Linked DNA regions of Homo sapiens: region 2 is linked to region 1. The links come from fine-mapping of genetic effects on gene expression. Tissue or cell type: prefrontal cortex. Region 1 holds a variant in brackets; the other region holds the start of a gene. All regions are shown on one strand. Distances are between the middles of the regions.

Region 1 (8,108 bases):
CTTTTATACTCTGTCACAGATTCCCTTTGTTTCCTCATCTCCATGTGAATTTAGTTAAATTCTCAGCATTCTGATCCTTACTATACAAGGTAAATGAATATAAAAACAAAACGAAACAAAAACCTCTTCCTATTTACATAAGGCCCCAACCTAATATTTAGTGATATATATTAATGTGAACAAGGAACTAACGAAGACTGGGAAGAAATTCACAGACTTGAGAGAAGAAATGGCAGGATTTCCTGGGAACAATTTCATGTAACGTCAAAGGTGGTAAAAGGTCAAATAGAATGAAGATGGAGAATACCGGATTTTCTTACAAAATGATTTCCCAGGAGATCTCATCAAATGCACGAGGATACCTTCTCAGTTTCACCTAGTGAGTAAAAGACTGGTAACATAGCTCACTTACAATTTGGATAAACAAAACTAAACAAACAACATCAAAATTTCAGAAAAAATAATAGCAAAACAGAAATCAAACACTCAAATTTTTGGTCCTTCTGTTTATTTCATTTTGGATACTCAGTGAATGTTAATTAACCAGGAAACTTAAAAGTTATTTCAATTATGAACCTCTTCAATCCTTCATCAATTATTTTGAGTATTCTGGTCTTAAAAACATCTCTTTCTTCTACAAACTTCTGAAAGAGATGAACACCTCCACCTACACCAAAATAATGTGCTTTGCTGGCCAAAAGTACACGTCCATTTTTACTTAACAGTCTAAGGAAAGTCTGGTGCAAATTACTATAATAATCTGGGTTGTAAATGGTTTCTGAGGTGAGAATGAGATCATATTTTACAAAAAGTTTTTCACTACTTAGTACAAGCTTACAAAACTCAGACCACTCACCAGAAAAAAATCGGCATTTATATAGTTGTGTTACTTTTGGTTTCCTGCATCTTTTCACATCTGGCTCATTTACATCATTTTCTTCATCTTCCAAAGTGGAGTTAGCTACTACATTAGGTAAGGTTACTTCATCAATCACCATACTGTTATAATCTTGAAAGTGAATTTCTTTGGACCCTCCCTTGAATGCAGTTATACCTAGTAAACCTGATCCACAACCAAGATCCAAGACTTTTTTCCCAGCAAATTTCACTTTGGCCTTTGTGAAATAAGCCAGGAGGTCAAAGGTACATTCCCAGATTTTTAAGCCTCCCTCATAAACACCTGTAATCAGATCAGAGTGAGAAGAAAAGCTTTTTGAAACTATGTTTTCTCCAGGGAAGTTCTCTTTCAACAAGATGGTTTTCACTACTGATAACTTAACATGCTGGAAACCTGGTAATGTTTCTATGACTTTATTTTCTAACATCTTCTTTAAATCTTTAGGCATAGCATGCTCTTTGGCAGCTCTCAAGGAGGGCTGTTTTCCATGTGGCTCCAAGTTCCTTGAACTGCTGGCTGCACTGAGTGGACTGTCTGTGTCTTGAGAGGGAGCTGCATTTTCCATTGACTTATGTTCCCACAAGTGATCCTGAGGCAAGTCAAATTGTTCTGCAGAACATTTTCTGTCCCTCTCTTCTCCTTTTTGACTTTCTGAGACTGACAGCTCTTTTGAGGAATCCAGGGTCAAAGCTCCATCTCTAATGGGTGTTAATTCATTTTCCAGATGGTCTTCTATAGTGAAATTAAACTGAAAGGTCATCCTCTTATTAAATGCACACAATCTTTAAATTCAGATTCTTCAACTTCTGGATAGAATTTGATGATACACACAAATCTGCCTCAATTATTCAATTAGTTTTGTTGGGCCCAATTTCTCTTTAGCAGCTTATACATGGTAACAAATATTTAGAGATATTTCCAAATGACTTTTTAGACGTCTTTGGTCCTCTTTCCAAGCAGCTCTGGAAAGAAAAAAAAAAAAAAAAGAAAGAAAATGATGATTAAAGCAAAATGGCACATTTCACTAAAGTGTAATATTAAACAGCCACCCCCACCCCTCCCTGTCCCACCATACAGCTGCTTTTTCTTAAAAAGTTGTGGGGAAGAGAGAGAGATAAGAGATTTGGACACTCATACACACCTTAAGGGTTCCAAAGTGGGAGAAGAAAATCAACTATAAAAACAAACAGAAGAACAACAGCAACCACCACCACTACCACCTGGACAAACATAAAGTCCAAGATATTCAGACAGGACAGCCTAGCTACTTGCTGTCTTTCAGCTGTCTTGATTTGTGTCCAACCATATTCACCCCCTAAGCTTCCAGAATAACTTCACTTCTGTCTTTTACAGAAGAGGTGCAGTATTTTATTTTGGTAAGTCAGCGTCCCTTTAAAAACATGCATAGGTATGGCCTGGTGTGTGTAAATTCATCCAAGACTTCACTCCAAACATTTAGTCGAGAACAGCAGCCCTAAGTGTATAGAAGTGGGGGTAATTTGGCAATAATTAGTAAAGACTAATTCGGTGGCAGAGCAAACGCAAACTAGGGCACTGCAGTAGTTTGGAGAGACCTGTAGAAATAAGAAGCAACTTTATTGAGAATCTTCTATCTACTGCGCTAGACACTATACCATCTGCCTCAATTTTCACAGTTCTGGCAAGTGGGATCTTTGTTCCCTTTATACAAGATTTACAATTTGGGGGAGAGGCGGGTCACCCAGTCCCGCGGCTAGGAACGCGCCTCTTTCCTCTCCCATCACGCTGCAAGGCTTGGAGTCACTTCCGGCTGCAGGTCCCGGAACAAATCCGACCCCAGAAGTGGGGACTTCTGGCCCTCACCTCCCCATTTGAATGTAATGTTTACAGTGATCCAGACCTGGGGATGCTTGCTTCCCGACGTGTCCTGGGATCGCGCTTCTGAAAAAGCTCACCTCACAACGCCTCCTCCGGACCTAAATCGCGCACCAGTGAGTCGAGTCCTCCAGGGGCTAGAGAAGCCCGACTTTCTTTCCGGCCTTGAGGGACCCGGGCTCACCAAGAAACCAGCCGCCCTCCTCTCTATGGTTTTGGAGCCGGCGGAGAGCGCGCAAGGGTTGGCGGGACTGCGAGTTTCCGGTCTGGGCTTTGGCGGGTCTGGTTTGAAGCTCTCCTGTTTGACGAAAGTATGTCTCAGGAAGGTGCGGTCCCAGCTAGCGCGGTTCCCCTGGAAGAATTAAGTAGCTGGCCAGAGGAGCTATGCCGCCGGGAACTGCCGTCCGTCCTGCCCCGACTCCTCATATCCTTCCTTGGTTGTCACTTCTACCTAGAGAAGGGTGTGGGCGGGTCGCGAACCTTTCTCTTCTGTCCCTTCAGACCCACCGCCAGGCTGGGTTATATTACCGCGGCCTGAACCCCCTCTTTTCTTTGTCAGTGAGTGGGATGAAAAGTGAGGGACTGGAGGGGAAGCGACAACCGTGGTAGATTTAAGTAAGGCTTTGGCCCTGGAAAGCCTCGCGGACGTGTTCTGACCCAAGGTTTTAGCAGTGGATGTGGCGTTTTCTTCCATTCCTTCTTTCAGTTTTTCTGTACTCGTTGCTTGCAATTAAGTGTAAATACTTTTGCTAGTGGATAATGGGGGAGGCAAGGACTGAGACCTGCGGTATGACGATAGCTCTGGCTCTTAATAGTTTGAGGTAAAGCGAGATACTCTGAGCTTTTGTCTCCCGTAAAAAGGGTGGTGAATATGAATAAGGGCTTTCTTAGCGTTATAAGAATTAAAGGGCATAGTTCTGTGGTGTGAAATCTTTAAAAGATGTTCAGTAAATAAAAATGATTTTCCTCCTTCCCCTCTCAGACCTCTTTTTCTTCTTTCTTTCTTTTTTTTTGACAAGTTCTCACTCCTCTCACCCAGGCTGGAGTCTTTCTGAAAGAGTTCTTCCGCTTGTTGTTGGCTTTCAACTGTTGGATTTGAGGCGCTTAGCGCCTTCTTCGTCCGGGTGCAGCACATTCTTGATTGGTCTCATGCCTTTGTGGTTGTAAATGTGCCTGGAATCCTAGCCTTTCATGGTAAACCATATGTATATGTATCTTTTTCACAACATTTGAGCCCAGCTTTATACAATTACACTCAAAAGAAAAAAAGTAACCTTCACTTGAGAGAATCTCAATACTGCACAAATATTGTGCAGCTAAAGCCCTATGTAATCACATAGAAGTCATTCACCTAGGCATTAGCAAAATCTCAGAAGGTGCCAAAGCCCCCTTTTTTAGTTTTTGTGTAG[G/A]TACAGAACTGCCGTCTTCAAGGAGTTTCAACTTGAAAACAAATAGCCACCCTCAAAACATTCAAAAACACTTAAACTGCGTGCATAATGTGTGTGAGACATGGTGTTAGGCTTTGGGAGAACAGAGACACGGAACGTGATTCCTCTTCTTCCCCACAAGCTTATAGAGAGACTTCATTAAGTTGAAAGTCAACATTCCCACCTAGCTTTGCACTTCAAACGACATATTCAAAAAAGCCCAAACTTCCTCTAGTTTTCTTCATCTGAGTAAATGGTTTCACAAACTGAAACCTTGAATCCTCTCTGTCTCACACACCCGATCAGTAAGTTCTATTGTTTCTGATTCCAAACTATGTCTTGAATCAATCCGTTTATCTCCATCCTCATTGCTACCACTCTGATTCCAAACCCTTATCACCTCTCACTTGGAGTATTAATAGTTTCCTTGTTTCTACTCATAATTCATTATTCCAAAAAAGTTAAGAGGGGAAAAACATAGATCTCGTCATTTCCCTTTTTAAACCACTTTACCTTCAAGGTTCCAGGTGATCTAAGCCTTGCCCTTCTCTCATACCTAGTTAATTAACTACACTCTGTTCATGAATACATTAGGCTCACCTACCTCAAGATCTTTTTGCTCAGCCTGATTTGTTCTCTCAGCCTTTTGCATATTTCATGTTTATGTCTTGGCCCAAATGTCACTTCCTTAGAGGGGCTTTTTCAGAGCCTTCAATCTTAGGCAGTTCCCCCAAACGCAGTCTTACACTTGTATCACATTGGCCTGTTCAGTTTTCTAAAAAGCACATTACCATTAAAAGAAATGCTCTTGTTTGCTTTGTATATTTTCCACTTCTACACATTATGTTGCAAAGTTCATAAAGGCAGGATGTTGATTTTCTTCACAGCGTTACCCTCAGCACCTAGAACAGTGCCTGACACATAGTAAGCATTCATTAAAGGGCTAAAAATATTTCATGTTTTAAAAATACTTGGGAGTCTAATTAGACAATACTTTTTTTCAGCTTAATGGTAGTATTTTAGCTTCACTATTTTAACAAATGAAAAATTTGCAATAAATCTACAATGCCATTACCCCCCAAAATCTTTTTCATGTTTTGCATTTTACGTATTATTTTCCAGGCCTTACCTGCATGTCTGCATAATCATAACTGACTAATTTTGGAACAGCTGGTAATTATTTGAGCTTTACTGAAATTTTTTCATGAGGCCAATTCTACCCTACTGAACTCAAATTTGAGTTAATGATGACCTCATTTTGATTGCTGCTGTAAAAAATAAGATTTCGGAAGAGGAATGAATTCTTGTATTACTGTGGTAGGACTATGGGTTTTTTTTTGTTTGTTTGTTTGTTTTGAGACGGAGTCTCACCCTGTCACCCAGGCTGGAGTGCAGTGGTGCGATCTCAGCTCACAGCAGCCAGGTTCAAGTGATTCTCCTTCCTCAGCCTCCCGAGTAGCTGAGATTACAGGCACGTGCCACCATGCCCGGCTAATTTTTTGTATCTTTAGTAGAGATGGTTTCACCATGTTGGCCAGGCTGGTCTCGAACTCCTGACCTCGTGATCCGCCTGCCTCAGCCTCCCAAAGTGCTGGGACTACAGGCGTGAGCCACCGTGCCCGGCCGGGTTATTCATTTTTCTTATTAACATTCTTTGATGATTCTTATGGTGTTGTTACAGTAAAACATTTCTAACAATTATTCTAACAATTATTCTTGATGGTGTATATGAAGAATTTATTGTCGTGTATTTGTAAGCTGCTATGTGCAGAAGAATTTCAGTCAAATAAAGTTGGTAAGATAGGTATGTAAGTAATATGAAAAAAGATAGAAGGTGATGAGTGACTTAGGTATAAATTAAGTACAATAGAAATGTTGAGGAAAGAAAAATTTCTTGTAATAGAAATCGGAAGTACAAACTGGGCATGGTGGTGTGCATCTCTAATCCCAGCTCCTTGAGAGGCTGGTATGGGAGGATCACTTTAGCCCAGGAGCTTGAGGCTGCAGTGAGGTGTGATCATGTCACCGCACTCCATCCTGGGTGACAGCAAGACCGTCTCTCTTTTTTTTTTTTTTTGAGACGGAGTCTCGCCTATGCTGGAGTGCAATGGCGCGATCTTGGCTCACTGCAACCTCTGCCTCCCAGTTTCAAGTGATTCTCCTGCCTCAGCCTCCTGAGCAGCTGGGATTACAGGTGTGCGCCACCATGCCCAGCTAATTATTTTGTATTTTAAGTAGAGACGGGTTCTCACCATACTGGCCAGGCTGGTCTTCAACTCCTGACCTCTTGTTCGCCCATCTAGGTCTCCCAAAGTGCTGGGATTACAGGTGTGAGCCACCCCACTTGGCCCCGAGCGAGACCCTCTCTCTAAAAAAAAATAAATAAATAAATCATAAACCTGTGGATTATTGTAGCATTGTTTCTCATCTGTCAAAAATATTTCATGACTATGCATAGTTTGAAAAGGCAAGTTTGTCCCTGGGCAATTTTCAAAATATTTCTTTAATGTGTTTTCACAATACTGTTTACCTAATAAATCTTAAGTTTTTAAAAGCAAAATTAAGCCAGTAATTTGAGTCCAATTCCAATCTCTTATGAGTCATTGCTTAAATTTCAAAAGGGTTTTATTTTTTTTTTAGGTTTGTTCTGAGTAATGAATACCCTATTACTATGATACTAGTATCTTCCTTAATTATCCTACTCATTGTCTCAACATTCTGACAGTTGGATTGAGCATATTCGTAAGTAAAATTGTTTTAACTGTATGATGTACTTTGATGTTAAGGTCCGAGTCCCCACATACCTCGGTAGATGTGTTCTTACAGTTTTGTATTCCCTTGAAATGTAACTGTTCTCTATGTTACAGCCTTTATAACCTTCAGTTACTTGAAATGAACAAATTCATTCAAATTCCAGCACTTAAAAGTTTTAAATTACATTTTGGATAAATACCAAAGTGTTTTGTTGATGATGTATGTATAAACAAATTGTAAATATTAAACGTTAGTTGTTACGATTAGACCTATATAAAACATGATATGCAGTCTACTGAATAGCTATCAGCCTCTAACATGTTTAGTGTCATTTAGAAAATGCTTTCTAAATTGCCAAAAGCTGATTGTCTAGGTGATAACAAATTTACCATTTGGAGGAAGTTGACTTTCTCATTTTCATGTCTTCATCAGTCTTACTTGATGAGATTCATTCTTCTAGTCAGAAGAGAGTTTAGACTGCTCAGTTTACTCATATTTTGAGTTAGCTTTTCTATTTAGAGTTCACTTGGTTGTGGAATATTCATTTATAATTTGAATCTACGTTGTGTAATGGGACCTAATTTTTTTTTCCTTTGTTTTTGTTGGAGTCTCGTTTTGTCACCCAGGTTGGAGTGCAGTGGCGTGATCTTTGCTCACTGCAACCTCCACCTTCCAGGTTCAGGTGATTCTCCTGCCTCAGTCTCCCAAGTAGCTGGGATTACAGGCATGCTTCACCACGCCTGGCTAATTTTTGTATTTTTAGTAGAGATGGGGTTTCACCATGTTGGCCAGGCTGGTCTCAAAACTCCTGAGCTCAAGTGATCCTCCTGCCTTGGCCTCCATAAGTGCTGGGATTACAGGCGTGAGCCGCTGAGCCTGGCCCCAGAGTTTGTTTTGTTTTGTTTTCAAGACAAGATCTCACTCTATTGCCCAGGCTGGAGAGCAGTAGTGCGATCATAGCTCACTGCAGCCTGAACTCCTGGGTTCAAGCTATTCTCCTGCCTCCATCTTCTAAAGTGCTGTGATTACAGGTCTGAGCCATGATGCTTGGCCTGTGTTTTTGTTTGTTTGTTTTGGGGGACAGGGTCTTGCTTTGTCACCAAAACTGGAGTGTAGTGGTGCGAACATAGCTAGCTCACTGCAGCCTCCATCTCCCACGCTCAAGCAATCCTCTC
Region 2 (8,108 bases), 98 kb after region 1:
GATGATGATGGTAACGGGTGATTATGTCAAAACATAAAACTGTACACTTTTTTCATTTATTCTGTATCAATTACGCCTCAAAGTTGTTTTGAAAAGAAATATATGTATACATACACACAGACTTGAAAAATATATGTTGAAGTATTAACAGAGGTTTCCAGTGGAAGGTCAGATTATAGGTAATTTTATACACACACACTTGCCTGCACCTTCCAAATCTTCTACAATATGAACAGCTTTCTTGACAACAGGGATACAAACTCACAGGGTGACAACAGGTAATGTGCAGTGCCCCAGCAGTACTGGCAGCCTGGCAGAGGGACCTACTGTGCGTGCATGGGACCTACTGTGAGAGGCTTGCATTCTGAAGACAGTGGCTATCACAGAGTTCCAACCAGGACTGCAGTTTCAGAACTGTCAGATCATGCCACTTATCGTGAGGAACCAAGAGCCTGAATAGTTTTGTGGAAATCTCCATATTTTTCAATGTTGAATCAAATGTTTTCTAAACCTATATAGGCCAAACAACGTATGTCTGAAAAATCTGTGGCAGTCAGTTTTCAGTGGTGGCTTTACCATAATATAAAAATTAGAAAATAGAGTTCTTACTAACTCTGGCAATGTAGAAAGCAAACTGCTACAAATACGGCCAATAATTCTATGTAGGCCTTTAAAAATTTGTTTAAAATCTGTATTCTTTGGACAAATATAAACTCAATAATCATTACACATTGACCCTCTACTTGGAATTTTTCCCCACTTCGGTGAAATTCCATACAACACCTTCTACACTGGGTATGTAATGCTGCTCAAAACACATGCCTAGAACAAAATTTAAAGTGCCTACCGATCCACAACCATCGTTATATAAGAAACACATGTATAAAGGCTAAAGCTATCTAAAATTGAAGATTTTCAAAATCTAAAAATGTTGCTGAGAATAAGAACTAAATCTGCTTTGTAACAAATTCACTGAATTCCTACCTACCTGGCAATGTATCTTTCTTAAAAATGACAGAGAAGCAAAAAACAGTACTAAAAGAAATGCCAAGTATGGCAACTATGGTAACATTCACCTTTCTACTGGGACTACAAATAAAAAGTTTATGTGGGACCATGGGTAAAAGCAACAATGCTAATCCCTCTGTTCTGGAGATAGAGTGCTGGCCAGATTGTCACAACCTCCTGCTGAGTAGGGAGGATTATGCTTAGCACTTGATCTTGCCACCTCTTCTTGGGCACAGTTAATGTTGGCAGGTACCTATCCTGGGCCAAAGGGCGGTTAATTCACAAATTAGCCATCAATTTCATGGCCTGAGTGAAGAGATAAACTGGCCAGATCATTGTCTCCCCCAGGAATTTGAACTAAGAACAATTTTTGCCTATTAGAAGCATAGCCGAAGGTAGAAGGATGCTATGAGGTGGAGGTGGAGCTACGGCAAACCAAAGCCACATGAAGTCAGAAACTTTCCAGAGGAAGTCAGTTGGTAGTAAAATTTTAAAAAGCAAACACTGGGACCGTAGCTTAGTCATACTTAGGGGGCACATTACTACTATCCATCTCAAGACTACCGGAAGCCCAGCCTCAAATCTAATTCCACCCAGATACCCTAACATCCCATTGACACCCTTACAACCAGCCCCCTTTTCCTCAGGTAACTTGAATGGGTCTATGTTCTTTGAAACTAATTGCCATTTCATAGGCAGAAAGCTCTACTTGGTCTCCAACTCCTGCCTGAAAAGCCAGTCAGACTGGAAGAGTGAGTTACAGAAGTGTTACTTTGAAAGTATCTGAAGCTAGTCTGACCGTCTCTCTCTCACCCACAAAACACAGCTTTCCAAAATCAACACACAATTAAGAGAAAAGCAGAGAATAAGGGACTGTATATTAATGAATATCTTCTTCGCAGGAAATCATGCTGTTTATTTAAGTGTTAATATTAATCCTCATGGGAGATAAGACTGCCACCAGGATTCAGGGTCAGTGCTCTGGCTGATGAATGGCAGTCACCAGAGGCAAGAGAAAGGAACATTTAATTTACTTAGCTATTTCTAAATAGCAAAATACTTCCTTGTGGGAACATTGGCCTTGCAATAGCTATTAACCTTAGATTTCATATGAATTCCACTATAATTAACAAAGTTATAAAAGCATTAGGAAGTAGTTAAAATTCATTTTTCTTACTGTATTTTAGGTCTAAGACTAAAAAAATCACTTAAAAATTAAAAAGGGATGACTCAATTTCTTGAGAGAACTGGAAAGGATGCCATTTTCTTGTTTTGAAAGCATGTTAACTTTGACAGAAGTCCACTGATACCATCAGTGTAATACTGACAGTGGTAAGATTATATTGTATGTTCCCAGTGCAAACTTTATTGGGGGAAAATTAAAAAGGTGTGCTGATTATTGCAATTTGAGAATGTTTTGAAGCAGTAATTCTTCACACTAATATATCTAAAGAAGCACAAATACTGTTATATGAAGAAGTTTTTTTGTTTGTTTTTTGTTTTAAATAGAGATATGGTCTTGTTCTGTTGCTGCTGGCCTAGAGTGCATTGGCGCTATCCTATCTCACTGTAACCTGGAATTCCTGGGCTCAAGCTACCTGCCCTCCCCAGCCTCCCTAGTTGCTGAGATTACAGGCATGTGCCACCATGCCCGCCAGTGCTTTAAAAATGATAATTCAGCTAAAATTGATTTATTGAAATGTAAGAAAAACACTTGGCCTTCCAAAATGCTTTCCTGTTGTTTTGAGGACGGGGAAAACACAAAATCTTGCTCATTAGCTTTGAAATTAAAAAGTCACAAGAAGGTAGAAAAGGATATCCTAGTATCCCGTAATAGGTATTTCGTAGCACTTAGCATCTCCACTCTATAATAAAATGCTGAGTTGACAGTCTCTGACTTGAATATGCATCAGTCTTCCCTTTAATAATCTCCCTCCACTCTTTTGCCTACTTGGGCAGCACATAAAATTTCTGGACCGCTTGTAGATTAAGAAAACCCTTGTCTAGGTCAAAGGGCAACTCATACACTCAACTAAGAAACCCGTGTGCTCTATGGAAATGTTTCTACCAAATATTTTCTTTTCCCAGCAATTACTCGAGACTACCTTGGTCCTAGCTCCCTTAGCTTGAAAGTTCCAAAGATAATGGCTTGCACTCTGAGTATTAAGGATGCACTGTACTGGCTGATATTCTGGTATCCAGCGGTAACGTTACTCCGGCCCTTGCTTTCGTGTTTCAGGTATATATTCCCTCTGCGGAACTCAGTCCAGCATTGCTAGCTGACAAGCAATACACAATTAAGTCTTTATGGACCAAAATAATTGTGATTTCAGCTCAAGATACATTTTATAAGAACATGGGTCCCTAAAAACAGCAGTTAACAGTGACCCCCAAAATTCGAGACCCGACTCCGAGAATTTCACATGGATTCCTGAATATGCTCTTCCGAGAAATGTTTCATCTTTATTCTAAACAGAAAGCACTATGCCAAGACAGGAGCCAGCTGGGCCTTGGGGGACGGGCACTGGTCTTGGATCAAGAATGAGGCCGCCTTCCCGAGGGCGGGCGCGCCCCCAGGATCCCCCCGGGCTCGGGCACTGCCGCCCCGGGACAGTGACCCGCCCAGCCGAGCACCCTCGCCCTGCTTGCCGCGACCCCGCGGGGTCACTGAAGGGCCGAGGCGCCGCTCTCGCTTCGCTGGCCCCTCACCTTCCACACCTCCCTGCGAGGACCGACTCCGCGGCCGCCTTGGAGAGCTCTGGCCGCGGGCGCCTCACCCGTCGGGGGCCGCCCGCGAAGCGCAGATTACAGGGCGCCCCACAATCAGCAAGGGGAGGCTGCTCCGAAGCTGAGAGCACAGCTCAACCGGCCGCCGGCGCCGCGCCGAGCTCGCTCCCGCGCGGGCCCCAGAGCGCAGACCCGCGAGCGGGGCGCGCGCCCGCCGCCTCCTCCCCGCCCGGCCCCTTCCCCCACGGCGCAGTCCTGCAAGGACTGGGGGCGCAGCGCAGGGCTCCCTGTTACCTGCAGGAAGGCGGCGGGGGAGGAGGCCGAGGGTCTTGGCTCTGGTACCCTGTTGGCCCCCCTGTTGACACCAACCACCCCTGCCTGCCTGTAAGGCTGTGGCCACTACACCCACAATCTTCTGGGGGCCGGGTTTCTCCTACACCATAGAGACGGGTCCGGAAACGGGACAGAAGGCCCACCTTCCTCCCTCCGACGCCACCAATGAGGCCAACTAACCAGGAACCGAGGTAGAGAGGCCGCACAGCTGAGTCTCAGGCCGGTGCCATCTTAAGTGTGGGCGCCGCGACGATACCGAGTTTCACTCACTGCCCCAGTGGTCTAGTTAGTCCACGAAGATGCCCCCTTTCTAGATGTGTTGGTCGAATGCTTAAGTTTGTCTTGACTTGAATTTTTAGGCTTTTAACAGCACAGTTTTAATTTCATTTCCGCCCAAATCCAAAATGGCTGCTGGCCACTTGTAGCAAACAGTAGAGGTGCAGGGCGGAGAAAAGGAGTACGGGAATTAGCGAGGACTTTCAGGAGAGTGACGTCACTCAACCTGTAGCTTTGATTGGCTGGGCTGCGAGGGTGGAGTCGTGCAGAGCCGCTGCTGGCGGAGGTCGTGGTGATCTCGCTTGATCTTTGAGAGGGAAGGTCCTGAATCACATTTCATTTAGCAAAAAGTAATATTTGAAAATTTTAATATTAATGCAGTAGTTTTGCCCCCCTCCATGCTTTCTGCAGTGTCAGTTACCTGTGGTCAAACCTTGGTTCAGAAATGTTAAATGGAAAACTCCAGAAATAAACAATTCTTAAGTTTCAAACCGCCTGTATTCTGAGTAGCCCGATTAAATCTCGGGCCATCCACTCTGTCCCACCCTTGACGCGAATCATCTGTCGCAGGTAGCCGCGCTGTGTACAGTATCCACTCATTACCCACTCAGTAGCTGCTTTGGTTAACAGATGCACCCGTAGTATAGCAGAGATAATGAGAGATACCACCTGCTTATGTTCAGGTAACCCTTATTTTACTTAATAATGGCCGCAAAGCACAGGAATTGTGCTGACAATTTGGATATGCCGAGGAGAAGCTGTAAAGTGCTTCCTTTAAATGAAAAGGTGAAAGCTCTGGACTTAATAAGGAAAGAAAAAGAGTCATATGCTGAGGTTGCCAAAATCTATGATAAGAACAAATTATCCATGAAATTGTGAAGAAGGAAAAAGATTCGTGCTAGTTAACTAAGCACCTATCATGCACTGTGGCTGTAACTTTTGTAGTTTGAGGTGCAACAGCAAAAGACGGAAAAGGCATTACATTTGTGGGTGGGAGACATGAACAGAAAACGTATTTCAGCTGACCGCAGTAAGTTTTGCCAGAAAGTGTTGAGCCTATAGGAAGACTTAAGAAAGGGATCCCCTGAAATTAGGCACACCAAGCTATTTACTGCAAGTAAGGGATGGCTACACAGATTCAGGAATAGGTTTGGACTGAAAAACATAAAAATAACTGGAGAGGCCACATCTGCTGATGAAGAAGCTGCCACATGTCTGGCAGAGTTGAAGACATTGGTTAAGGAGAAAGGCTTCCAGGAGATTGATGGATAAGTTAGGAAAATCATTCAGGTAGCAATGAAACTGCCTTTGCAAAATTATGACTAAGGCAGTTAAAGAGATCCAATTTAACCAACTCCATCTTGTCCTTAACCTCCATGCTATCCTTGTTCATTCCTGGGCATAGGCTGAACTAACTTTGGAAGGAAATTAGTTTATAATTTACAGTTTAAAACAAAAACAATAAAAGCCCTTTCCCAAAACCAACCTCCTTCTTGCCTGGGGTCTAGACTACCAACATTAGCCACAAGATTAGAAATTATGGTTTGGGAGTCATGCAGCTGGAGGCCACAAGATTCTGACCCTCCCTAAACTGCTCCTGAGATCAGTGCTTCAGATGTTTTGCAGACCCTGCACTTGATGGATCAGCTGGCAACACCCAGATGATAAACTGGCCCATCTGATCTTGTGACCCCCACCCAGAACTGACTCAGTTCAAGAAGACAGTGATGCCCCATAGTTTCATCTCCGACCCAACCAATCAGCACTCCCTGACTTACTGCCCCTCCCCACCCACCAAATTGTCTTTAAAAACTCGACTGCTGGAGGAGACTGATTTGAGTAATAATAAAACTCTGGCCCCCCACACAGCCAGCTCTGCATGAATTCTTTGTCTATTGCAATTCCCCGTCTTGATAAATTGGCTCTATCTAGGCAGACGGCAAGGTGAACCTACTGGGCGGTTATAGCAAGACAAGTTGGTGAAAAAGGATTTGTCAATATGCTTGATGAAGAGGTGGGAGAACATATCAAAGGCCTCACTATCCATTCTGAGGACAGGTTTAACCTTCTCAAACTAGAAGCAGGGCTTAGTCACCCTGGACAGTCTCTAGTTCTGTGCCTCCTCCCACTTCCTCTATGTGGTCAGTCCAGACATCTGCCTTGTATGACCGCCTCTGGTGACCACCTCCCTATCGAACCATCAGGTACAAGCTGCTTGCTTCATCCCCTTGACCCCTATACCCCACATATACTTTGCAGATATGCCTCAGTGACCACCTCTTAGTCACAGTGGGACTAAGATGTTGGACCCAGGACCACAGTGAAGGCTTTGGCCCGCAAGTCCCTCTCTCTGTCTCGTCCCCCTCCCACTGGTTGAGCATGTGTGTCCCCCTTCTCATTGGCCCTGTGAGGCATGCTGTCCTCTTATTATGGATCTGTAAGTAATGAAACTGCTTCTATTATTTCACATGTTTTGTTCACCTCCTCTGTGTCTCACCTGACCTATACACCCACACCTGACTTGTTTCCTGGTTAGGGCTCTCCTAGAGAGTGGCTGTCTTGGTTGGAATAAACCAGACACGGGGCAGACAAGAGCCACAAATGTGCCTGCTAATATAAACAAGCTTCCTGTGAGAGGGACCTCCTGTCATGGGTCAGACACCTAGGATTTAGGCCGTCTGCCAGGATAAAGAAGTATTCCATGGAAGGCACACTGTAAATATCCAAGCCCCATCACGGAAGAGCTAACGTTTATAACCACTCCCAGAGAGAGACCTCGAGACCGAATTAGAAAAGAAATACAACACATAGACCCTAGGTTTACTAGCTCCAACATCCATTCCCACTCCTCACCCCCTTCTCCCTTGTTCACCTTCGATAAAGAAGTTAAGAAATCAAAAAGATCACTTTCTGAGCCTACTTTCCCGCTAGGGTGGTCACAAGTTCTGGCCGGTGAGACATAGCAGAAGTTGGGAGGAAGATAGACAGTGGATTAGGAAAGGTTTTTCCTCCCTATTAAAGGAAATGGCTGTGGGTGTAACAGCAGCAGCCACCCAAGCACCAGGAGACAGCGGGAGAACATGCTGAGGATGTCGATTTGAAAGACAGAAGGATTCTCTTGCCTTTCACACTATCCCTCGAGAGTTCATAACTATGTTTTTCCTCCTTTTACAGGAGGAGTAGAGATGAGTCCCTTCAACCAGTACGTGAAATCTTCTGCAGTCAACACAGCTACTTGCTGGCCCACCCTCTTCCCAGTGTCCTCACCTCTGAGTCTTTGCTGGCCTTCCCACCCTGTTCCTTGCTCCCTAATCTTATGTCCAGATGTGCTGAGCTCCAGGGTATCCTCTATAATCATTCATCAGCCTAGAGGACTCTGTATTTCCTTTCATTTCCCCAAGGTAAACCCACTCCTCCAAATATCAATGAGAAGGGAATATTTTGCAGTGAATGGAGTAGGAGAGAGATGGGAGGGAGTTTGACACTCAGTCCTTCCCCTCTTCACTCTTCATCTACTCACCTATTTGCTCTTGATGTCACTCAGGTCTCTGAACAAATGTCACCTGTTCAGACTCTTAAAGATTTGGGGCATTGAAATCACAGGCTAACTTGTATATTTTTGTCCAACAAAGATGCAAATCTTTCTGTCCAGTGGAAAAGTTAACCCCAAAGTTTATTCTTATTGCACTAGAGAGCATTTCTCATTTTAAAATCTAATCTAGTAATCTTACTGTATTTCTTTATAAAATTGCTTGTAAGTATGT

Which allele goes with the higher level. Positions count from the first base shown, and alleles are read on the strand shown. Sizes are in standard deviations (SD) of each study's normalised expression.
With allele A in place of G in region 1, the expression in prefrontal cortex of the gene that starts at base 4,138 in region 2 is lower (small effect, 0.37 SD a copy in GTEx).

Evidence for each region. PIP is the estimated chance that this variant, and not a neighbour inherited with it, causes the effect.
Region 2: it holds the start of SCYL3, and the variant in region 1 is fine-mapped to the expression of SCYL3 in prefrontal cortex (GTEx, PIP above 0.99). The same link has a PIP of 0.9 or more in substantia nigra and whole blood.

The regions. Positions count from the first base shown.
Region 1 is chr1:169,792,038-169,800,145 of GRCh38, forward strand. METTL18 (methyltransferase 18, RPL3 N3(tau)-histidine) reads right to left here and starts at 2,870. Exons shown (of 2, transcript NM_033418.4): 1 at 2,778-2,870; 2 at 492-1,860. The coding sequence starts at 1,658. The coding sequence ends at 540. FIRRM (FIGNL1 interacting regulator of recombination and mitosis) reads left to right here and starts at 3,003. Exons shown (of 25, transcript NM_001320047.2): 1 at 3,003-3,078; 2 at 3,792-3,946; 3 at 6,820-6,921. RefSeq lists an enhancer at 2,603-2,922. The variant G/A (reference allele first, on the strand shown) is at 4,162.
Region 2 is chr1:169,889,759-169,897,866 of GRCh38, forward strand. It overlaps SCYL3 (SCY1 like pseudokinase 3), which reads right to left and starts at 4,138. Exons shown (of 13, transcript NM_020423.7): 1 at 4,030-4,138. RefSeq lists enhancers at 3,306-3,893, 3,894-4,481, 4,156-4,565 and silencers at 3,576-3,635, 3,876-3,955.